3 separate regions of the Homo sapiens genome follow, and regions 1 and 2 are each reported to be linked to region 3. Evidence: microRNA targets listed by miRTarBase, many of them from high-throughput screens and not tested one by one. Region 3 holds a microRNA gene; each other region holds the end of a gene's coding sequence. Distances are between the middles of the regions.

Region 1 (8,184 bases), 160 Mb from region 3:
TAATAGAACCTCCCATAGGGTCATTGAGGTTTCAAGTAGAAAGAACCCAGATGTCTATTAACAGATGAATGAACAAAATATGATCTGGTGCTAAGATGAAATATTATTCAGCCATAAAAAGGAATGGAGTACTGATACATGCTACAACATGGATAAACCTTGAAAGTATTGCGGTATGTGAGAGAAGACAGACACAAAAGGCCGCATCTGGTATGATTTCATTTATATGAAATGTCCAGAGTCGGTGAATTTATAGAGGTAGACGTAGATTAGTGGTTGCCTAGGGCTTGGGAGCGGGGTAGTAGGGTAAAGGGAGTGACTGCTAACGGGTAAGGGATTTCCTTTTGGGGTGGTGAAAATGTTCTGGAACGAGACAGTGGTGATCCTTGTATAACTCTGTGAAAACAATAAATCCACACGTAACGTTGTTGATAGGTTCTTGGAAATGGTGACTTTAGCGGGAAAGAAATGTAGAGTAGATCCTCGAATAATGTTTCCTTCAATGGAGTTTTGTCGTTACATTGATGAGAAAAACATTTCGCTTGATGTCACAGTCCCTTAGAACCTATCAACGATGTTAAGTGAGGATTAAAATCCACTGAATTGTGTGCCTTGAAAGGGTGAATGTTATAGTGTATAAATTATATCTCAATTTTAAAATGTAGCCAAACAATAAATAGGGAATAAATAGAAAAATTTATGTACAAGTGTACCACACAGTGTTATTTTATTGGTGGTGTAGGGGAGGAAAAAAATTGTTTTCCTGTATCCTTTTATAGACTGTGACTGGGGCTTGCAAATTAAACTGACAAAAGACTAATGAACAGGAGAAAAGGCATACAGATTTTATTTGATGTTCCTACTTTAATTGTGATGTACATGAAGGCATTGATTGCATTCATAGAAAAGAAGTGAAGACCCTTTGTTAAAATGGTATATAAGCCCCCTACCATTTTAACAAAGGATGATACATTTGTGGAGAAATGACAAGATAAAGGAAAAGGGCTTTGTGTTCCTAGGGGTGGCAAATTGTGGGAAGATAAATATGTGGGGAAATTAATGGAAGATCAGGGTGATTTCAGCAAGATTGGTTTGTGCAGACTCGTCTTCTTACTGACTTTTTGTCTTCAGTGCTAACTAACGGTTGTTCTCTTCCTGCTATAAGAGAGGGAAGGAGAAGAATCTTCCCAAAGGAAAATTTATGTCCCGCTTTTGGGCAGATGTGGGAGGGCAAAGAGCTCTTTCTACACGTGCAGTTTCTTAATTGCCTTTAGCTCAAAACAATCCTGATGCAAAAGTGGCATATTTGGGGTGGCACGTTCTGATCTTCTTCAGTGGGAAATTGGACAAACTTAAATATACACCTACAGGGTAATACATGCCCACATATGGTATTTTATGGGGCAGCTGTATCATGATGTATTATGTAGCTATGAATAAAATTTTGGTTTTGGAAATTAAAAAAAATTAAATAAAGTACTTAGGACAGTATCTGACATCTACTAAGTGCCTTTAGTGTTGGCTGTTATTAATGAACCCGAGGACAATCCTGTAACCTTGGGCTCCTCATCCCCATATGGCAGATGAGGAAACTGAGGCTCGGAGAGGCAGCATGACATGGATGTTCTGCCCCTCCTTCCGGTCTGCTGTCAGGGAAGGGCAGGGTCTTGGCATCAGGCTATTCTGGAGCCCGCCTAGGCTCTGCCACTTTCTAGTGGCAAGGTCTTGGTCCAGCACCTTCCTGCACCACTCTGAGCCTCTGCTGGCCTCAGTGTCCTGCCTGTGGAGGGAGTCATAGCGTTGCAGAAGGATTCTCTGAGCATGTGCAGACTAGCCTGAGACTCCTTGGGTAATGTTGGTACTGTGCTTCTGTGACAGGCCCCAGGCAGTGGAACTAGGACCAAATAGGTAGAGACCCCAGAGACAGGATCACTTTCCACAGCCTGCCTCGCCTGGAGGTAGTGAGCCAGACATCCCTCAGGGGGACCTGCAGGCCAGGGAAGGAAACTTCAGGAGGAGGCAATTCAAGCAGAGGCCAGGGGCATGGCCTTTCCCCATCCAGCCAGTGTCCCCAGGCCCTTTTTAAGCCAATTGTCCTTGAGAAAGACACCCCGCCTCCCCAGGGCCTCAGTTTCCCTTGCTGAACCAGTCTAGCATGGTGGTTATGATTAATACAGTCTGGGGGCCCAGATTGCCTGGGTCCACATCCCAGCTTCCCTGCTTTTGCTTTCTAACTGCATGACCCTGGGCAGGGAAATTCGCTTCTCTGAGCCTCAGTTTCCTCATCTGCAAGATGGAGATGAGAGCAACACTTATCTTACTTCTTGTAAGAAAAGTGAATGCAATGTTCTCACTAGTACTCAGTGTACTGGCAGAGTCTGGTGCTCTGACAGCCTCAAGGCCTGTTGGCTATTACAGTTACTATGACTGTTTTATTAGCTGTGAAGGGACTGGAGGACACGTGTGTGCCTGGAGGCAGGGGCTGGCCCCCCGAGTCCCCGTCCCCCAGTTCCCAGCCTGCAGTCCCCCTCGCTGCTTTCAGCACCAAGTGATCGACAGGCTGGGCCAGTGGCATCCTGGCAGGCCTGTCCTGGCAGCTGCTCCCACAAGGCGAGGCCCTGTGAGCTGCAGAGAATTAATTAGGCTGCATTCCTCTTCCAGGGCTCCTGGCGGGCCCGCACACGGCCCCCTTCTTAGCTGCCGAGGGCTTTTGGCTTGGATCCCTGGCAGGCCAAGGCGAGGCCCACACTCTGCTCTCCCCTGAGAGGGGCTGGGAGGGCCCTTGTGAGCTGGAAGCATTGGCCGGGAAGGAGCCAACAATAAACCAGCCACCCAAGGCCAGCTCCCGTCCTGGCTCTCCCTCGTTTAGCAACCTTCGCTGGCTACCTATCACTCAAGTTCAAATTCCTGGCATCGGATGCTATTCCCAGCCTGGCCCCTGCTGATCAGGCCTGCTGCCCCTCCCTGGACTCTCTCATGCCCTGGCCAGATCTGCCTTACACCATTCCCACCAAGCCCTTTCCCTCATCCCAGCCTGCACAAGCCTTGCCAGTCCTTCACCCCCCATCCCACCAGCTACAAGGCCAGCTCCACCTCTGGACCTTCGTTTTGCTCTTGTCTGTCTTCCCTGCCAGGCTGTGAGACCTGAGCGGGCAGCCAGAGAGGTTTCCAGAGGCCTGAAGCCCTCATGGAGGGCATGCTGGGCATGGTAGTATTTTCCAGGGAGGCATTTTCTGAGGCTGTGGTGGGGGTGAAAGAGGTGGTGGCCTCTGCTTCCTAGAGCACCCCCATGCCAGATGCTCGGGGCTTGGTCTGGTGCTCAGGCATGCACTGCCCCTTCCTGCCTGCCCCTTCCAGCCGTTCCCAGGACCTCTCCTTTTACTCCCCAAAAGAGGCTGGGAATAGCTCCCTTCCTATGAAGACAGGAACCTTCACCTATGCTGTTTCCTCTGCCTGGAATGCTCTTCTCCACCCTCTTCCTTGACCGACTTCCCCCGAGTTGGCCTAGATGTCCCCATCTCCAGGAAGCCACCCTGGGCTCCCCCTCCTCAGGGGCTCCATCACAGTGTGGACATACCCTATTAGAGAGGTAGGATAGCACGGAAGTTAAGAGCCTGGGGTTTAAAACCCAGCTAAGCCACATCCTAGCTATATGATTTTGAGCAAGTTACTAACCGCTCTGTGCCTCAGTAACCTTTCCTATCAAATGGAAATAGTAATGACAGAATTTGCTACATAAGGTTGCTGTAAGGAACCAAGGAGTTAATATGTGGAAAGCACTTAGTAAGTGCTCAGTGAATGTTTGCTGCGATTCTTATCTTCATATTTAACTGTTGTTTTCTTGAATGACTGTCCTCTTGGCCTATGAGGCAGGAACTGTGTCTGTCTTGCTCACGAGAGTCCTCCCAGGGGTGATTATTCATAACTGTTGAATTAATGGATGGCCACATTCCAATAGTTTGTCACCGTGATTAGGCAAATGACTTTTCTGAACTGAAGACTTAGCTACCTGGACTCTATTTTCAATGAGAGAAAGAGAGAGAGAGAGAATTCCACAGGGCTCTTTCCTGAGTGAGGGCTGTGGAGAGGCTGCGAAGGGCCCCGTCTGCAGCCTCACAGCCCTGGACACAGGACCTAACTGCTCTCTGCCTCAGCTTCCTCCTGTCCACATAATCCGAATAAATCTGGGTCATCCTGTGCCCCCTTCTGGCCTGTCTCTGCCTAGTGTTCCAGTTAAAAGGAACACAAATTTGACTCAAAAAGCCTTGAAAAACGCTTGTTCTATATTTATGGAAAAGGCAGGAGGAGGGGAGATTTTGTCCCAGAAAACCCAAGTTTCCTGAAGCTTAGATGCCTTCTTCCCAGGGTTCGGTTTGACCTGGTAGCTGCTCCTTGTAGCTTTTTCTCTACTTCTTTCCAAACTCTAGCCCACCTTCCCCAACATGGCTGAAGTCCCAACTACCTGGAGTGTGGGCTGGAAGCAAGGACAGACTTCGGACATATGTGGCCCTGTGGCCCTGCAAACTTTTTGTCCCATAGAGAGGTATGGCTGGATGAGGGCCAGAACAGGGCCCCCCTGCAGTGCAGGGCCCCAGCCAGAGGCCCCTGTTTCCAAGGTGTATGGGTCTAAAGGACTGTAGTGTCACCCTTACCTGTCCCTGCCTTCTGGGCCTCCTCTACTACTTTAATCATCTCTGTTGCTCAATCATCTGGGTCACTGATCTCTGAACCCTGGCCAGGGTCCCCGGGGCCTGTGCCAAGGGCGGTGAATGCTTCCCTCCAACACACCCTCCGCCAGGTTTTCCTCATGCTGCTGCCAGGCCTCTGTCATAGCTGCGGCCCTAAGGCTGCCTTACCCAGCTGCCTGGCCTGGCCATGGGCTGTTGCATTTGAGTTTTTCAGGGGCAGGGTCATGTTGAATGGGAGCCTGTGATGCACTCCCAGGGAGCGAGGCTCCCCTGGCATCAAGCTCAGCTGAAACGTGAGAGGTGCGCTCTGGCCCTGGGCTGGAGTAGGCAACAAGTGCCTGGGCTGACCCCGTGACACCAGCCTCATCACCAGGATGCGCGGAGGATCCCTAAGGACTTATGATGACTGCTTCTCTGCCACTGGTCTCCTCATTCACTCAGCTCTGGCCAGCCCTCTGTGGCATATTTCCAAAGCTCAGCTCTGCCGAGGTCCCCTGCTGCTCACAGAGCTTTGTGGCTTCCTGTGGCCCACAAGGGGAAGTCGAGGCTCCTAACCTTGACCTTCAAGGCCTCTCTGGCTTTGTGTCCTGCTGCTGCCCCCTTGCCATGGTCCAGACACCTGAGGCCCCTCCTAAGGAAGCTTCTTTGTTACTCCCACTTCCATACTTTCATCCTCCCCGCTCCCTCTGCCTGGAATTCCCTCCCTATTTTCTTTCTATGTATTCAAGTCATTTGAGTGTTTCTTTTTCTTTTTCTTTTAAGCCAGGTCCTCCCTGTGGTGCCCAGGCTGCAGTGCAGTGGCACGACCATAGTTCACTGTAGCCTCGAGCTCCTGGGCTCAAGCAATCCTCTGGCCTCAGCCTCCTGAGTAGCTGGGACCACAGGTGTGCACCACCTCACCCAGCTAATTAAAAACATTTTTTTTTTTTTGTAGATACAGGGTCTCCCTATATTGCCCAGGCTGGTCTTGAACTGCTGGAGTCAAGTCATCCTCCCACCTTGGCCTCTTAAAGTGCTGGGATTATAGTCGTGAGTTGCCACCCCTGGCCTCTTTTGAGTCTTTCTATTTATTTTGCATATCTTTTGAGGCCACAAGAGTAGCACCTTTGTCCAGACTCTTCCTATGACCACCCACCTCCACCCCAGCTAGCCCCCATCTTGCCCCCCCATCAGGCCCCTTAGTTCTGTCCCCGTCCCACTCATTCCATAATCACCATTGCCAGCCCCACAAGCAGCCTCTGCCTCTTGTCAGGCCTTGGGCTGAGCCTGGTACCATCACTTCTCTGCTTAGTGCCCACAGCAACTCTGCGACGTGGGGACAATTGCTTCCCATTTTCTAGATGAAGAAAACTGAGGTTCAGAAACTGAAAGAGATTTGTTCAACATCATACTGCAGTGGTGACTCATGAATTCAATCAGCAAGTATTTATCATGTCCAAAGCCCAAGGTGAGGGGCCAAGCCAGGGCCAAGCTGTGGCTCCATCACAGCACCCCTCACTGACCAGTGGGGCACCCACAGCCTTGGGGTTCACCTGGTCTTCTCCCTCGCTGGACAGCTTTGCTCTGAGCCTTACTGTCAGCCTCTGCTGGGACAGAGCCGCTGGGGCGATGAGTCCCTCCACCCTCGTGTCTTGGCTTCTTCCACACACGCTCCTGGAAAAGGGATGGCCGTTGATTACTGGCCTGATGAGAACATAGCTCCTGGAATCCTGACGTCACAGCTGCAGGTGGCTGTCGAGGCACATGACAGACAAAAGCCCAGAGAGGGCAGGCTAGCAGCCAGAGACACCCAGCAAGGGTGGGAGTGGAACCCAGCGCTCTAGCCACCTGCCCCAGCCCTTTCCTTCTTGTGTCCTCCAACTTCCAAGCGGCCCCTTCTTGAGAGAAGCCTCCAACACCCTGCCTTGGCCAAGACAAAAAACCAGAGTATGTTTCCTCATTTATTATAAACACAAGTTCGCAGGTAAATAGAGGGTCTAAAAAATACATTAAAATAAATAATTGGGATTCTCAAAGTTCTTAGGGCAAATAAGTTATATACAGACAGGAAAAGCAGAGCAGGCCCTTCTCACTGGGAGGGTCCCGAGGGAATGAGGGTGCAAGAACTCTGGGGAGGGAAAGCTGGAGAGGACACAGCCAGCCAGGATGCCAGCCTCAGGGGAGCCATCCAGCCTCCAGGGCTGGCTGAGGCATGCGTGTTCGTGGCTGCACGGTTGCTCCTGGTTTGTAGCCCAGCAGACAGGACACTCCTCAGGACGCAGCCTCCAGATGAATGTACTCCCCATGCAGTTCTTCCAGCAGAGCTGTGGGCCAGCAGCCAGCACTGGAGGCTGCTCCGCAGTCTGGAGGCCGAGGGCTTCCCTGGGCAGTGCGAGGACACAGAACTGCCTTGGACGAGGCTCCCTCACCAGGGAGCTTGTGCCAATCCTGGCAAATGGGTCCAGCTGTCTGGGACCAAGGCCCCGGTCCAGGAAGCAGGCAGAGAGTCCACAAGCCCTGGCCACTTCTCTCCTCCTCTCTCCCCGCGGGCTTCCTTCCCAATGTTCCTCCAGCTCACGACACTATCTCTTCCTCCACCTGGAATGTGTGGACCGAGGCTCCCGCATGGCCTCCTGTTGTCGCTTGGCAAAGAGGCTCTTGACTGTGGAAATGTCCCTGGGAATCAAGAAGGGTCAACTTAGCATCTCAGGAGATATGGACTGTCCAAGAGCTCCCCATGAGAGCAGGGGCAATGGGGCTACAGCCCTTGCCCAGATCCTGGGGTCACAGCGGCCCTGGGGTCAGACAGTGACCACAGCCTGAAAACAAGGTCTGCACAACCAGCGCAGGCCAGCCCAGGCGTTGAAGCTTCTCTGCACATGGGGGCTTTGACAGAGCTAAGGTTCAACATCAAATGCTGCCAGAATGAGTGGACAGCCAAGCACAGCCCTGTGGGTCTCCCGTCATCTGCCTTCCCACTTCTTTCCACAGCTTTCCACACCTTTGCTCCTGCTCTTCCCTCCAGGCTGTGTGTATTCCCCTCACCCAGAAGCCACCTGCTACAATTCTACTCATTCTTCGAGGTCCAGTTCAAGGTAGTCCAGCCCAGAAAACAGGGCACCCCGCTGCCCTTTGAACCTGGCTGGGTGGCCACATCCTGGCTCAAAGAACTCTAAACTGGGAGCCAGGAGGCTGGCTTCAGTTCCTAGCTAAGGAAACTTGGGCAACAATCTCAGCCTCTCTGATCCCCTTTCTTAGCTTGTAAAACAAAAACAGGCCTGAACTGCTGAGAATGAGTACAAGGTTGGCCGAGCCAGCTCTGCACACTATGAAGTGTGCGCTTTTGAAAAGTCTTGTACTCATATTTTTCATTCTCAGAAAGTTCCTAAGTATATGTTGGGTCCCGTCCATCCCACCATCCTGCCTTTTCTCCTGTTTTTCTGCCGCCCCCAAAAGGTGAGAATCTCTGAAGGGCTGAGCTGGGCCCTGGGACCTGGCCAGCTGTGAGGAACCCTCA
Region 2 (8,184 bases), not on the chromosome of region 3:
TCATGTGCACAGCATGTGGACTAAAACCTACCAGTCAAGAGAGATGGAGAAGGGGATAGTACAGGCAGGGAGAACTGGCAGATGCATTAGGGGTGCAGATTTATACAAAAGACTAGACTGGTTTGGCTAGAGTGAAGCTGCTTGCCTGGGAGAACAGGATGGAATGGTAGCATGGGCCCAGATACTGAGAGGCTTTACTGCTGCACTGTGTTGGCTTCAACTCCTGTGCCCTACTGGCCCTTTGTGTGAGTATGTGTATGCCCTCTGGGAGCTGCCAGCTGGGGTTTAAATCCCAGGTCTACCACTTACAAGCATCTTACAATCATTTGCTGGGTGTCCTAGGGCAGTTCTTAACCCTTCTAAGCTTTAGTGCACTTATCTATAAAAATGAATAAATAATAATACCTATGCATGTGAAGTGCATAGCAAAGTGACATTTATAATAGAGTAAGTGGTAAAAAAGTAGTTATTATACTATTTTCCTAGTTGAACAATACGCAGTATTTCTGCTTTTCCTGTTCAGTAGGGGGAGAATGAAGATAGAATCGTAGGGGAATCAACTCCTTTCTTTGAAAACTGGTGAATAAAGGGGAAAAAAATCAAACATTTATTCTCCCTTTGTTATATGAGCCATACTACTGAATAATCACATAATAAATGAGCAGACATTTTTCTTTATAGGATTCCTCAGCTGATTAATGAATAAAGAATGATAGAAGTAGAATATCACCAATTGCAGTGCTTAATGAACTAATGGATCTATACATAGATCATAATGGTAGCTAGCACTCAAAAAGAGAGGCAACCATTTATTACATGCCTCCAGATAGAGGAACATTACCTGTGAAATAGTCTTGTCAAAAAGATTTGAACCTGTGTCTGATCAAGCCTCTAGATCCATATATTAAGTTATGGAAAATATGAGGACATAAAGACATATTATTAAGGAATACCACAGGGATGTAGAAAAATGAAGGTTTTAGGAGACTCAACAAATAAAAATCTGATTTTTGTCAACAAATAAATTGCAGGATGGAGTGGGGGTCTGGGGGATCTTACAGATCAAAGGATGCCTAAAAGACTTATCAGCCAATCATAATGAGTAAATTTTAATTGGCTATTGATTGAAACTATTTTTTAAAATTATGACATTTATGAGCTAGTTGAAAATTTGAGCACTGCTTAGATATTTCATGATATTTAGGAGTTACTAATCACTAATTTTTTAAGAGGTGATAGTGTTTTTTTATTTAAAAAAAACTACATAGTGAATGGGGAAAATGAAAAAGTATCATGATTATGGTGGTAAACTGCTCTTATTTCTTCATTTTAAAGCATTTTCCCTAAGAAACATGTGCTTTTTATTTGTTTTTCAGGTTGCTGCATGATCTCAACTTTTCCAAAAATGAGATCCATAGTTTTACAGCATAATGAAGAGCTGTCATTGTCCTTTATTCAACTAGTTTATCTAAATTTGTGATTGCTTAGGGTTTTTTAAGAGAACATTTTTGTACATAACAAAAGGTTAACTAGAATCCAGCCTTCAGTTTCTTAAATGAAATCAAATGTTCCTTCAGTACAGGTAACTTCTTGGCTTTCTTTTGTACCACAACTTATTTTACTACTGATATTTGACCTGGAAAGTTAATCATGGCAACAAATACATACAGGATTCTTTGTTATGAATCACAAATTTCCTTGCCATTTAAATTATATCACTGTTCTACAATAAGCACTTGTGTTTTATGACATGATAAAGTAAATGATCACTTCGATCATGTTTCTATGCTGTAAAATGTCTTATTAGCAATACAGATTAAATTTTACCTTGCACTGTTAACTCAGGAAATGATCATTTATGTCCTTGTTATTAATGTTAAAACATAGAATGTTATAACTTATTAAGTGATCCAAACATTTTTTTGTGTGTGTATGGCATTGATGCAGAATAGAATAAAATTATACTTAAGTTCTTTTTAATCCTTGTGGTAGAAATGTGGTTGAATGCAACAATATTGGGCCAGCGTCTCAAGGGGAATTTTAAAAGGCAGCAATAAAATATATTAGAGACATGACACACATGCGCCTTTGGACTAGGTGTGTTAACAGAGCTTGAGAGAGGGAACCTTGACAGCTATTTTTACTCTTAGCCAAAAACAAAGACATTAGGAAAGAGAGTGAAAGTATAGTGTCTAGTTCCACAGCATAAAGTTATTATTTGGTGCTTTGGAATGGGTTGAATTTTAATTCTTTAGTCCATCTAAATCAGCTGGAAAAATGAGGAACATTCTGCCTTGAATGGTTCTTCCCCTGGTTGGCTGCTTTCTCCACAACTGGTGGTTCAGCAGGAAGCCCTCTTAGGTTCTTGCATGTGGGCAACTTATTTTCTCTTCCTGCTGCTTTGTGCAACTGTCAAATACTTTCACAGATTCAGATCAGCAAAGGGTATCAAGGATAGTCATTGTGAGCTTTTCGTGAGGAAACTGTTGAATGCATAGGTAGCTACTGTATAAGCTAACTAGGATTTTTCAGTCTTAGTACAGCTGCAATGTTTTCACAGAAATAGGGGATTGAAAGAGTCTCCAATTTCTCTGTAAATGATTTTGTAAACAGCTAAATCTTTGCTGAATGAATAATATACTCAAGAGGAACACAATATTAATATTCCCCAAATTACAGACGCCCAGCTTGTGAAGCTTCCTATGTGCAAATGGCTGGTTGAACACTATCACTTTTTCCTGTGCCTCTGTCTTCTGTAGCCAATTCCACCATCATCATTATTCACAAAGACAGGAATCTAGCTGTCCTGGACTGGTACTGTTCCCTGGTAGGTAACAAGAACTTTTTCTAGCTTCATGCCTTCCCCCTACTTATTTTTTTCCATCTAAGGGTGAGGTGATTTGGCTCTGTGTCCTCACCCAAATCTCCTCTCAAATTGTAATTCCCACATGTCGAGGGAGGGTCTTGGTGGGAGGTGATTGGATCATGGGAGTGATTGCCCCCATGCTGTTCTCATGATGGTAAGTGAGTTCTCATGAGATCTGATGGTTTAAAAGTGTGGCACTTCCTCCCCACCTCCTGCTGTATTATGAAGAAGGTCCTTGCTTCTTCTTTGCTTTCTACCATAATTGTACATTTCCTGAGGCCTCCCCAGCCATGCAGAACTGTGAGTCAATTAAACCTCTTTTCTTCATAAATTACCCAGTCTCAGGTAGTTCTTTATAGCAGTGTGAAAATAGACTAATATAAAAAGAGACTATTTACCACTTTTTTTTAGTTCATTTGCGATGTATCAAATCTAACTTAGCCAACATCTTTCTCATCTTTTCTAAGCCTCTTCTTTTTTCTCTCTCCTTTCCCAAGCAACAGAATCTCCTATTAGTCGCTATATGTAATGCTTCCTCATTCCTCCTTTTATGTTTTATATTTTTGTTTATATTTTATTTATATTTTGTTTATATTTTGTTATATTTTATTATATTTTGTTATATTTATATTTTGTTTATATTTTAAAACAAATCCATAAGTGTCTCCTGGGTAATCTCCACTGACATGATTTTATCAACTTACATGTTAATTCCCAAATGGGAGTGACTAATTTGAGAATCAGCTGAGCTTCAGTTTTCAATATCCATTTACTTCCTGCATACCACCCCACCATCCACCTAGTAAGCCATTCTAGAACTATTAGGAATCAACATCAATGTCCCCTTCTCCAGTCTGACTCTTCCATACCAGCTAACCCTGTCCTATCATCCCTCAGCTGGATTAGTACAGTAGCTTGATAATTCATCTTCATGCTGCAGTCCTGATCTCCTAAAATTCATTCTCCATTCCAGGGTATTCTAGAAGGACTTGGAGGAAAAAATCCCCTAAGTAGAGCCTCAGTCTTCCAATGAATGCAACCAAATACTGAGGAGCACAGATAGGAGTATAGTTTATCACTGTTATTCTCAAGCAAATAACTCAAAGACTCCTACATCACATATTTGCAGTGAAGAAGAATTACGCTCAAAGTCACATTTGCTTGCAAATTCTGCTTTTTTTAAAAAAAAGTTTATTAATTTTCTATTGCTGCTAGATCAAATTACTACAAACTTAGTAGCTTAAAACAACACCCATTTATTATCTCACAGTTCCATGGCACAGAAATCTAGGCACAATATGGCTCAACTGGGTCCTCTGCTTAAAGCCTCACAAGGCTGTAATCAGATTGTCAGCTGAGCTGGGCTCTTAGCTAGAGGCTGTAAGGGGAAGTCCCTAGATAAGAGTTCTTTCAGCCTCATTAGGTAGATTTCAGTTCCTTGCAGTTGTAGGACTGAGTTCCCCATTTCCTTGCTAGCTGTTAGCTGTGGGCTAGTCTTTGTTTCTAGAATTTGCCCACATTCCTTCTCATACTTTCTGTGTGGCCCTCTTCAGCATTAGTGGATGAATCTCATGCTTTCAGTCTCTCTGAATTCCCTTGTGGGCTTCTTCAGCATTGGTAGATGAATCTTATGCTTTCAATCTCTCTGAATTCCCTTTCTGCCATATCTTTCTTGCCCTAGCAAGAGTTCACTGCTTTTAAGATCTCATGTGGTTAGATTGGACCTATCCAGATATCCAGGGTAATCTTCCTATTTTAAAAATCTATAATTTTAATTATAGCTGTAAAGTCCCTTTTCCTATATAATATATTCAAAGGTTGCAGGCATTTGGGTGTTGACATCTTTGATGGGCACATTGTGTCTACCACAGGCTATAGAAAGAACAGAGAAATTTGTCCAAGATAAGATGATTAGGTTTTGTCTAGATAGGGGCCCTTGCTATGGGCCCTCAGTTTTTACCTTAATGTAACAGAACATGAGAGGAGCTTTGACACCCACCCCAAAAGAGTCAACTTCATTATGCTGGCAAAGGCATGGGTACAACCTGCTCTGTGATCTACCTTCTGAACCACACAAGCTTGTCCTGAACGAGGTTGGGGCTGAGTCTGTTGATAACAGACCCCCATTTTTGGGCAGAAAAAACAGATTCTGTATGATCTACAGTATTTAACATTGTGGCAAATAAATTATAAAGGAAAAATGGAATCTCAAGTAGTTACAGTCTCTTGGTGTCTTTCAACATTGGTTTTATTTTGAAGTCATTTTCACCCAGCATTGCAAGTTTAGCAGACCTCAAAACAGAATGCCAAAGTGATCTTAAAATTCAAAAATGAGTTTACTTTCTTTGTTAAAGTTCTCTTTTGATGCATATCCCCCATTCATGGAATGGAAGCATTATCTTGGGTGCAGCATTACACGTAGAGTTAAAATGTGGAAACAACCCAAACATCCTGATATGGTTTGGCTCTGTGTCACCACCCAAATCTCATCTTGAATTGTACTCTCATAATTCCCATGTGTTGTGGGAGGAACCCAGTGGGAGATAATTTGAATCATGGGGGCAGTTTCCCTCATACTGTTCTCATGGTAGTGAATAACTCTCACAAGACCTGGTGGTTTTATCAGGGGTTTCCGCTTTTGCATCTTACTCATTTTCTCTTGCGGCCGCCATGTAAGAAGTGCCTTTCACCTCCTGCCATGATTCTGAGGCCTCCCCAGCCATGTGGAACTGTAAGTCCAATTAAACCCCTTTTTTTCCCCAGTCTCAGGTACGTCTTTTATCAGCAGCGTGAAAATGGACTAATACAGTAAATTGGTACCAGTAGAGCAGGTGTTGCTGCAAAGATACCGGGAAATGTGGAAGCAACTTTGGAACTTGGTAACAGGCAGAGATTGGAACAGTTTGGAGGGCTCAGAAGAAGACAGGAAAATGGGAAAGTTTGGAACTTCCTTGAGACTTGTTGAATGGCTTTGACAAAAATACTGATAATGATATGGACAATGAAATCTAGACTGAGGTGGTCTCAGGTGGAGATGAGGAACCTGTTGAGAACTGGAGCAAAGGTGACTCTTGTTATGATTTAGCAAAGAGACTGGCGGCATTTTGCCCCTGCCCTGGAGATTTGTGGAACTCTGAACTTGAGAGAGATGATTAAGGGTATCTGGTGGAAGAAATTTCTAAGCAGCAAAGCATTCAAGAGGTGACTCAAGTGTTGTTAAAGGCATTCAGTTTTAAAAGGGAAGCAGAGCATTAAAATTCAGAAAATTAGCAGCTTGACAATGCGATAGAAAAGAAAATCCTATTTTCTGAGGAGAAATTCAAGCTGGCTGTAGATATTTGCATAAGTAACAAGGAACTGAATGTTAATTTCCAAGACAATGGGGAAAATGTCTCCAGGGCATGTCAGAGACATTTGTGGCAGCCTCTTCTATCACAGACCTGGAGGTCTAGGAAGAAAAAATGGTAAAAATGGTTTTGTGGGCAAGGCCTAGGGTCCTTGTGCTGTGTGCAGTCTAAGGACTTGGTGCCCTGTTTCCTAGCCACTCCGGCCATGGCTGAAAGGGGCCAACATGAAGCTCAGGCCATGGCTTCAGAGGGTGAAAGCCTTAAGCCTTGGCAACTTCCATGTGATGTTGAGCATGTGGGTGCACAGAAGTCAAGAAATGGGGTTTGGGAACCTCTGTCTAGATTTCAGAAGATGTATGGAAATGCCTGGATGCCCAGGCAGAAGTTTGCTGCAGGGGCGGGGCTCTCATGGAGAACCTCGGCTAGGGCAGTGCAGAAGGGAAATGTGGGGTTGGAGCCCCCTCACAGAGTCCCTACTGGGACACCGCCTAGTGGAGCTGTGAGAAGAGGACCACTGTCCTCCAGACCCCAGAATGGTAGATCGACTTACAGCTTGTACCAGGTGCCTGGAAAAGCTGCAGATACTCAACACCAGCCCATGAAAGCAGCCAGGATGGAGGCTGTACCCTGAAAGCCACAGGGCCAGAGCTGCCCAAGACCATGGGAAGCCACCTCTTGCATCAGCGTGACCTGGATGTGAGACCTGGAGTAAAAGGAGATCATTTTGGAGCTTTAAAATTTGACTGCCCCACTGGATTTTGGACTTCCATGGGCCCTGTAACCCCTTTGTTTTGGCCAATTTCTCCCATTTGGAATGGCTGTATTTACCCAATACCTGTACCCTCATTGTATCTAGGAAGTAACTAGCTTGCTTTTGATTTTACAGGCTCATAAGTGGAAGGGACTTGCCTTGTCTCAGATGAGACTTTTGAACTGTGGACTTTTGGGTTAATGCTGAAATGATTTAAGACTTTGGGGTACTGTTGGGAATGCATGATTGGTTTTGAAATGTGAGGACATAAGATTTGGAGGAGCCAGGGGTGGGATGATATGGTTTGGCTCTGTGTCCCCACCCAAATTTCATCTTGAATTATACTCCCATAATTCCCATGTGTTATACGTGGGACCTGGTGGGAGATAATTTGAATCATGGGGGTGGTTTCCCCCATACTGTTCTCATGGTAGAGAATAAGTCTCATGAGATCTGATGGTTTCATCAGGGGGTTCCGCTTTTGCATCTTACTCATTTCTCTTGCTGCCACCCTGTAAGAAGTATTTTTAACCTACCGCCATGATTCTGAGGCCTCCCCAGCCATGTGGAACTATAAGTCCAATTAAACCTCTTTTTCTTGGCTTAATTTCTTGGGTATGTCTTTATCAGCAGTGATTCTATTCCTATGAAATGTCTAGAACAGGAAAATCTATGAGACATAAAGTAATTAAGTGGCTGTTCAGGGGATACAGGAATAGGGGATAATAACTAAAGGGTTGGGAGGGTGTTTTTGAAATGCTAAAATATTCTGAAGTTTACTGTGGTTATGGTTGCACATACTTATGAATATACCTAAAAATGTTGAATTGTACATTTTAAGTAGATGAATTGTATCTAATTTGAACCATATCTCAGTAAAGATATAAAAATGTTTTTGGGTACTAAGACTAAACTAGAAAGAACATAAGAGGAAATACATATTATATAAGAAGAAAAGAGTAAAAATAAATCTTTAAAAAAATAAAAATAAAAAGGAGGCCTGTGTGCGGTGGCTCATGCCTGTAATCCCAGCACTTTGGGAGGCCGAGGCGGGTGGATCACCTGAGGTCGGGAGTTTGAGACCAGCCTGACCAACATGGAGAAACCCTCTCTCTACTAAAAATACAAAATTAGCCAGGTGTGGTAGCATAGGCCTGTAATCCCTGCTACTTGGGAGGCTGAGGCAGGATAATTGCCTGAACCCGGGAGGCGGAGGTTGC
Region 3 (8,184 bases):
GGGTAGATAAAAAGTCATAAGACACTTTATTTTTATTTTTGAGACAGGGTCTCACTCTGTCACTCAGGCTGGAGTTCAGTGGCACAATCAAGACTCACTGTGGCCTTGACCTCTTGGGCTCAAGTGATCCTCCTGCCTCAGCCTCCTGAGTAGCTGAAACCACAGGAATGCACCACCACGCCCAGCTTTTTTTTTTTTTTTTTGAGAAGTCTTACTCTGTCACCCAGGCTGGAGTGCAGTGGCATGATCTCAGTTTACTGCAACCTCCACCTCCCAGGTTCAAGTGTTTCTCCTGCTTCAGCCTCCCAAGTAACTGGAACTACAGGTGTGAGCCACCATGCCTGGCTAATTTTTGCATCTATCTTTTTTTTCAGTAGAGATGGGGTTTCACCATGTTGGCCATGCTGGTCTCAAACTTCTGACCTCAAGTGATTTGCCTGCCTCAGCCTCCCAAAGTGTTGAGATTACAGGCGTGAGCCACCACGCCTGGCTTTTTTTTTTTTTTTTTTTTTTTTTTGGTAGAGATGAAGTCCTGCTATGTTGGCCAGGGTGGTCTCAAACTCCTGGGCTCAAGCGATCCTCTCGCCTCAGCCTCCCAAAGTGCTGGGATTACAGGCATGAGCCACCGTGCCCAGCCCATTTTTTTTTCTTAGTGATGGAAAAGATAATGGGAATGCTGCTGCAGATAGAGAATTCAGCTGCTTCACGGAGAACTGGAATGCTATTCCTTTTTCATTTTCCTGCACCAGCTGTGCCATTTTGCCATATTTTTTTTCATATGCATGTGTAGGACACCCACCTCCTTCACCCTGGCTGTTCCCTGAGGACAGGAAAATACTGTCATTCTCTGGGCCTCCCCCAGTGACCTTTCCTGAACAAACACAGTGAGGACCTCTGGTGGAAGAAATTTAATAGTCACTCAATCCGTAACTTAATTTTTGCTTGAAAACTTTATTAAAATAAGGATTAAACCTGAAAAAAGAACAATCAGAATGCCAGCCCTTTGCATAAAATCAGCAAGAAAAAGGACAGAAAGAGAAAAAAGAAGAGCATCAGTCCTCTCCACTTCTTCCCAGAGACTTAGGTGGGGAGGAGAATACCCGCTGCCCTGCAGTGCCTGCAGCCTGTAGCGGGGAGAGCTGTGGGCAGGTTCTCTGTCTCGGGGCTCAGTGGGCTATAGAGAAGTAAGTTCCCACCAGAGCAGAGGCCCAAGAGTCACAGATACCTAAGCTAGAGAATAGATTATCCTGAGGGGATATAAACTCCAGGAAGTTGATCAGGGAACAGGAATTTGGGAACAAACAATTATTCTGAAAGCCTGGAGAGCCTGAAGAGGCAGGGGCCATGCACACGAGCCTCTAACTGCCCTTGGGTGCCACGATCTGCTGGACATAGTTGACAACATTGCTGTGGAGCTGGGAGGCGGTGGATGCAAAAGTCTCCTTGGCGAGGGTCTGGGCCACCTCACTGCCACCCATCATTGCGTGGTACAGCGGAAGTGTATACTTCTGCTTCCCCTGCAAGAAACACACATACACATGCCTAAGAAGCTTGCCTGGTGGATCTGTCCAGCCCTGCTGCCCCCAGTGCCAGTCTAACAGCAGCCATGGCTAGGTGCTAAAAGGGATGTGGGCATCACAGCTGGAATGAGGAGCTTCTCATCAGAAGTGCTCTAATTCAGGCATCTTCTTGGGCGCCAGAGATCCATGGAGATGGATCTCAATACGCGTCCCAATCCATACTAACATGGGGACGTCTACAGTCAACAAAATGAATGAGTTGGGTGGACACAATGGGATTCCAGACTTCTGGAAAGGTGTAGGTGGTGAGCCACCACGTGAATAGCAGATATCAGCAGCTGCGGCACATAAAGCTCACAGCCGCATACGGTCCAGCTGCAGTCAAGCAAAGGAAAACCCACAGGTCAACCCACAGGTCAAATTCACACAAATATAAGCCAGCGACATCACAAGTTCCTAAAATCCAGAGCCTTGAGGAAGCCATCAAAGGGCTCAGAATATCCCCGAACAGGCAGGCAGCCCTGACTTTATGCAGAGCAATGCTTCGTCTCCGGTCCAGCCCCTCCCTGCTCCGGAATCTGATGACATTCAGTTCATCCTGAGAGCCCGGGGCCTTTCCCCAACAGGGCAACTTTCACATAGTGACAGAGGGTCTGGCTGCTGTCCCGATCATGCCCAAGTCACAGGGCAGCAGGGACCTATCCTCCAAGCCTTTGTTCCTCTTGCTCCGCCTCTGGCCCCTTTCCCTCTTGTGTTTCCCACATGACACTGTCACCCTCTTTCCCGCCTCTGCGTTGGCTCTGGCCAGCTTTTTTCCCTGGGGTCTCACCAGCTGAATTGCAGAAAGCACTGCAAGCCTGCAGGCCTCCTCTTGTCCCTAGGGCAATGCCTTCAAAGCCACACTAGTAAAGAGGCTGAGTGGTAGGGTCCTCAGGTCATTTGCCCCTCCCTCTGTGCCTCAGATGAGTCCTAGATGAGCCCTGCCCACATGATTACTTCACATATGGCCGAGTGGGTCCCAGTGTGCTTTCGGGAACAGCGAGGCAGGGGTCACCCACCTGGTTATGCAGGAACTCCTTCACTTTCCAGAAATCTTCCTGGTGGTCGTTCTTAAGGACGATTTGGCCCCATCGCAGCCGGAGCTCTGCATTCCGGGCATTTGAGATACTTGGGTATGTGTCTCCAAGTTTTTTCACATTCCCTGGAGAAGAGAAAGAAATGGTTTGTGGCTGGTCACGGTGGGTCACACCTGTAATACTAGAATTTTGGGAGGCTGAGGTGGGCGGATCACTTGAGGTCAGGAATGTGAGACCAGCCTGGCCAATATGGCGAAACCCCATCTCTACTAAAAATACCAAACAAAACTGGCCGGGTGTGGTGGCGCACGCCTGTAATCCCAGCTACTTGGAGGCTGAGGTGCTAGAATCAAGAATCACTTGAACTCAGAAGGTGGAGGTTGCTGTGAGCCAATAGCACCACGGCACTCCAGCCTGGTCGACAGAGCAAGATTAAAGCAGACATATTCCCCCAATATCTGTCCCATTTTTTCTCCTACCACTCATCTGCTAAAAGTCATCTTGGCTCTAACTTTTTTTTAACCCCTTGGTGAATATTATGTTGACTGAGCAGCCACAAAGCATTAGAGGTTGAGAGCTCTGGATGACTGGGTTCTGTGCGAACTGTTTGTACCTCAAGTTCATTCTGTCACCTGGGTATTAACATCACACCGCCTACTTCCCAGAGGAGTTGTGGGAATTAAATGACTTAATAGACACAAAAGCCTTACAAGAGTCGCCTGCAGGAGCTTCGGACTTGAGCAATGCCAGGCTTTGTGACTTTGTCCTTGAGGTGCTTGTAAGTAGAACCCATAACCTCCCGATGGCACATTCCTTGTGGAGTGCCAGCCTCCCTAGTGTACGTGGCAGTCCCCTAACCCATAACCTCCCGGTGGCACATTCCTTGTGGAGTGCCAGCCTCCCTAGTGTACGTGGCAGTTCCCTAGGGGCAAGCATCACTACTTTTTGTGAGCCTCCCTCTAGCCCCTGACATAAAGCTGTGCACACAAGGAGCCCTGGTTCACCATTTTTTCTTACCAGGAGGGAGAGGGGATTTCTGGAGGATCTTATCCAGGAAGTAGACCAGCTGGTAGGTCTTCCAGGGAGAGATGGCCACGGCTTCAATGGCCTTCATGTCCAGCTCCTCGGCTGCCCACAGTTGGGCTAGCTCTTCAGCAGGCTTCATGAGTGAGTCCCCAGGGGAGAGATCAGGGAGGTACGGGGGCCAGCCGGGGGTATTCAGCCATCGATCAAACTCAAAACCTGTTTGGGAGGAGAGAAGACACTATCAGAATTCTCTGGCCAGGTTACGGTCAACTGGTTTAAGCAACTCCCAGAGACCTCAAGTTTCTCCTCTCTCCATCCCAAACTCTTTCCCCAGCATTTAACATTACTTTCCCATGTAACTATTCGCTCCAGCAGGGTCCTAGTTATAACGACATCTAGAGACTGTGCCGTTTCGACCGTGAAAGTGCTTTTCGCTCCAAATTAGCACTGTGTTGTCAGAGCCAAGTTGGTGGATGCTCTATTCACGTGCACATTCTCCTACCGATCACAACCACACTGTACTTAAGCACCCAGGCTCTAGGACCAGGCTGCCTGGGTTCCTACCCCTGCTCTGTCATTAACCAGCTGGGAGGCCACGGGCATGTTACTTCACCTCTCTGCACCTCAGTTTTATCTATAAAGTGGGGGTGATAGGCCCTGCCTCCGTGATGGTTATGAGGATTACATGAGCAAATAAACATTAAAAGCTTAGCGTATCGCCTGATGCATAGTAAGTACTCTGGAATTATTAACTACCATTAGCTCCGGAGTCCCCGCATTAAAATGCAAGCCTCCAACCGAACAGTAGGTGCTGCTAAAGTCCTGACCAATCCTACTGTCAGAGGACGCGGACTTCATCAAACCAACAATAGAGTGACTCAAGGTTCAGGTCACAGCAAGAAGTGGGGGTATGTCTAATGGATTGTGTCTTCCATGACAGGACATTTTTCGTTTTTTCTTTGGAAGTGGTACCTCCCAGGCAGAAACTGGCGGCTGGGCACAGCGGCTCACGCCTGTAATCCCAGCACTTTGGGAGGCCGAGGCAGGTGGATCACCTGAGGTCAGGAGTTCGAGACCAGCCTGACCAACATGGAGAAACCCCGTCTCTACTAAAAATACAAAATAGCCGGGCGTGGTGGCGCGTGCCTGTAATCCCAGCTACTCGGGAGGCTGAGGCAGGAGAATCGCTTGAACCCGGCAGGCGGAGGTTGCGGTGAGCCGAGATCGTGCCATTGCACTCCAGCCTGGGCAACAAGAGCGAAACTCCATCTCAAAAAAAAAAAAAAAGAAAAGAAAAGAAAGAAAGAAATAAGGAGGGCCACTGGGGTTGCCTTCACTCAGAAGGCTGTAGGAGGGGTGCTGCCTCCGCTCCTGCCCTGTGAGTTTTAGCTTGGGGCAGTGGTGCGGCAGCAGTGGCAGCTCTCCAGGCAAGTTAAGGGTCTGACTGTGTGTCCAGGTGAGAGGAGAGAGTAAGGAAACAGACTGGGAGAAAATGAGGCAGAGAGGAGTGAAAAGAAGTCATTCTTGTGGAATAAATCCCAGGATTCTGGGTTTGCTTCCCAAAACGCCCCTACCTAGCTGACTCTGACCCAGTGTTTTCCCATCCACCACCATCTTTCCGAGTGTCAATGAGATCTCATTCTCTACTATTTTTTAGAAGCCTGTGGGCCAGTTCCTCTGCTTACCTGGAATGATATCCACTCTCTTTTTCTTAAGCTCAGGGAAATATTCCAAGTAGAAGTCCAGAAAGTCATCGGCTAAGATGCTTCGGAATTTGAATTCATGCACATAGGCCTGTGAGGAGGGAAAGCTCTTTAGACCCTCTCTGGCCCCGTGGGGAGTGGTGTCCCTCTGTGTCCTGGGTCCTCCTCCAACCCCTTACATCTTTCGCCCCCTGCCTCTACCCTTGATCAGGCCCAGTGGCTTTATCCGCTCCTCTTCCTTCTCCCCTCATGTGACTATACCTTGAGAAAACTGTCAAACTGATCCTGATCACCCACCAAGTGGGCCAGGTATGAAACAAAGCAGAAACCTTTCTCGTAGGGGGTCTCATTATAGGTGTCGTCCGGGTCAACGCCTGGCAGAGGAGAAAGCAGACAAGATTTGAGCTTTTGTAGCCTGTCACCCGTAACGTTCTTCTCTAGCTCCACAGTCAAAGACTAGCGATGGAAGAGATCAGAATTCAGCTTCCCCAGGGACAGCAAGGCCAAGAAGGTGTCCAGATCCTGGCCTCTCTCCAGATCTTGGACTCTCTCAAGGCCAAGACTCTCTCTCTTAAGATCTCTATCTCAAGGCCAAGATCTCTCTCCAGATATTGGCCTCTCTCAAGGTACTTCCAAGATCTCAGAGGGCCATTCACTGTGGATCTAATATGAAGACAGAGAAACCAGCCTTCCAGAGGAGCGGACACATTTCCTTAGTCCCAGGATACACTTTGTGTGGGTAGGTTCCATCAGCATTTCCCACTGAGCACCAAGCTGTGTCTTTTCCATCCCTATTGGTCACCACCTAAATACTCAACCTACCCTCCCAGATCAATGTTTTTTTTTTTTTTTTTTTAAGACGGAGTCTTGCTCTATCACCCAGGCTGGAGTGCAGTGGCACGATCTCAGCTCACTGCAACCTCTGCCTCCTGGGGTCGAGCGATTCTCCTGCCTCAGCCTCCCCAGTAGCTGGGATTACAGGTGTGCATCACCACACCCAGCTAATTTTTGTATTTTTAGTAGAGACAGGGTTCTCCATATTGGCTAGGCTGGTCTCGAACTCTTGACCTCATGATCCACCCGCTTTGACCTGGGATTACAGGCGTGAACCACCATGCCCAGCCAATGTGTTGTTTTTACAGCTGTTCCAGGCTAAAACTAATTACCCGTCTCTAAGAAATTCATCTGCAAACTTAACGGCATCAAGGAACATGAGCTTCAATTGCATAAAAAGGTTTCAGATTAGTCACACATGGAATGAAGGAAAATGTTAGGAAGTAAAAAGATCTGAATTTGGAGAGAGGACCCGGATCTCAGTTGCAGTCATGCACTGATTAGGTACATGACCTGGACAAGACACTTAACTTGTCTGGCACTCAGTCCCATCCTCTGTAAAATAAGGCTAATGCTTTTATTCTACAGAATCCACAGATCTGCCCTGATGATCATGAAGGAATGCGAAAGAGCCTGGTAAAACGATATGGACTTGTGCAAATGCAAAGCAATGGTGAAGTCATCACGAACCGCACAGACTGGACAGAACTCCTATCTGGCTGCAATGGCTTGGGTTCAGTCAGCCCAGGGGCCAGAGAATTGGCTACAAAGAGCTCTGGAGTGCCCCTCCCTCCAAATAAAGTATTCTAAGCGTGCACTGATCAACATGAAGTTCGCATTAACTTGGGGCTCCAAGCTCAATTGAGGGGAGTGGGTGTCAGACAGAGGAGCCTCCTGGACCTGGTTCAATCTTCACGCGGAGCTTGTTGAGTGGGTTTTCCTCTCCAGTGATGTCCATGTGCTGACGCAGCAGAGCCCGCCCCGTTGCAGCCTCCAAGCAGGTGTACGCAGCGCCTGGTGCAGAATCAAACGTAAGCCTCGGGAAAACGTCTGTCACCACATCCAAGTGTATTTTCCTGACAGAGACACTGTGCTGCCTCCTTGTGGCCTCAAGAAGAACAGCGACAGATACCTGAAGCTTAATAACATTACCCTCCTGGGGACCCAGGGCAAATAGGGACAGTTACAGAGAGCCTGACTCAGTCCCTAGCTCCCTGTTGCTGTGGGCTACAAAGGACTTGGTTAACTCAGGCTGTTGGTCTCTCTCCTAAGTGAGGACTGGGGGAATCGCACCTTTCTGACAGTTACCTTTCCTTATCAAAGTACTGTATTTTTATTTTATCTTATTTCATTTATTTTATTATTTTATTTTTTGAGACAAAGCCTCACTCTGTCACCCAGGCTGGAGTGCAATGGCGTGATCTTGGCTCACTGCAACCTCCGTCTCCTCCTGGGTTCAAGCGATTCTTCTGCATCAGCCTCCTGAGTAGCCGGGATTACAGGTGTGCACCACCACGCCCAGCTAATTTTTGTATTTTTAGTAGAGAGGGGGCTTTACCACGTTGGCCAAGCTCAAACTCCTGATCTCAGGTGATATGCCCGCCTTGGCCTCCCAAAGTGCTGGGATTACAAGCGTGAACCACCACGCCCAGCCCCCGGCCTTATTTTTAGAAAATGATTTGATTTTTTTTTTTTTTTTGAGACAGAGTCTCGCTCTGTTGCCCAGGCTGGAGTGCAGTGGCACGATCTCGGCTCACTGCATCCTCCACCTCCTGGATTCAAGCAATTCTCCTATCTCAGCTTACCAAGTAGCTGGGACTACAGGCACACACCATGATGCCTGGCTAATTTTTGTATTTTTAGTAGAGACGGGGGTTTCACCATTTTGGTCAGGCTGGTCTCAAACTCCTGACCTCAGGTGATCCACCTGCCTCAGGCGTGAGCCACCATGCCTGGCAATGACTTGATCTTCTGTGAAAACTTAGAATTATTTTCATCTAACTGTTTCTGTCAGACAAAAGAAAT

Evidence for each region. Region 3 holds the annotated microRNA hsa-miR-6740-3p (UGUCUUCUCUCCUCCCAAACAG, at 3,839-3,860, opposite strand). A microRNA usually pairs through its seed, bases 2 to 8, with sites in the 3' UTR of a target mRNA and lowers its output. Matches are read on the target gene's strand: a 7mer-m8 pairs with bases 2 to 8, a 7mer-A1 pairs with bases 2 to 7 and ends in A, and an 8mer does both.
Region 1: the mRNA of EDN2 is a reported target of hsa-miR-6740-3p. The part of its 3' UTR that is shown has no 7-base or 8-base seed match.
Region 2: the mRNA of CYB5R4 is a reported target of hsa-miR-6740-3p. Seed matches in the 3' UTR shown: 8mer at 5,784-5,791.

Annotation. Positions count from the first base shown.
Region 1 is chr1:41,472,160-41,480,343 of GRCh38, forward strand. EDN2 (endothelin 2) reads right to left here. Exons shown (of 5, transcript NM_001956.5): 5 at 6,616-7,343. The coding sequence ends at 7,250. Among named protein-coding and RNA genes, the nearest start is that of EDN2, 8.4 kb to the right of the region's middle. RefSeq lists an enhancer at 4,773-5,479.
Region 2 is chr6:83,958,448-83,966,631 of GRCh38, forward strand. CYB5R4 (cytochrome b5 reductase 4) reads left to right here. Exons shown (of 16, transcript NM_016230.4): 16 at 1,377-8,184. The coding sequence ends at 1,431. RIPPLY2-CYB5R4 (RIPPLY2-CYB5R4 readthrough) reads left to right here. Exons shown (of 18, transcript NR_174604.1): 18 at 1,377-8,184. Among named protein-coding and RNA genes, the nearest start is that of LINC02857, 58 kb to the right of the region's middle.
Region 3 is chr1:201,998,891-202,007,074 of GRCh38, reverse strand. It overlaps MIR6740 (microRNA 6740), which reads right to left and starts at 3,951; the gene lies at 3,839-3,951. It overlaps RNPEP (arginyl aminopeptidase), which reads right to left. Exons shown (of 11, transcript NM_020216.4): 6 at 7,060-7,173; 7 at 5,587-5,699; 8 at 5,308-5,416; 9 at 3,614-3,838; 10 at 2,579-2,721; 11 at 932-1,517. The coding sequence ends at 1,359. ELF3-AS1 (ELF3 antisense RNA 1) reads left to right here. Exons shown (of 2, transcript NR_146472.1): 2 at 6,748-7,024. RefSeq lists an enhancer at 2,101-2,743.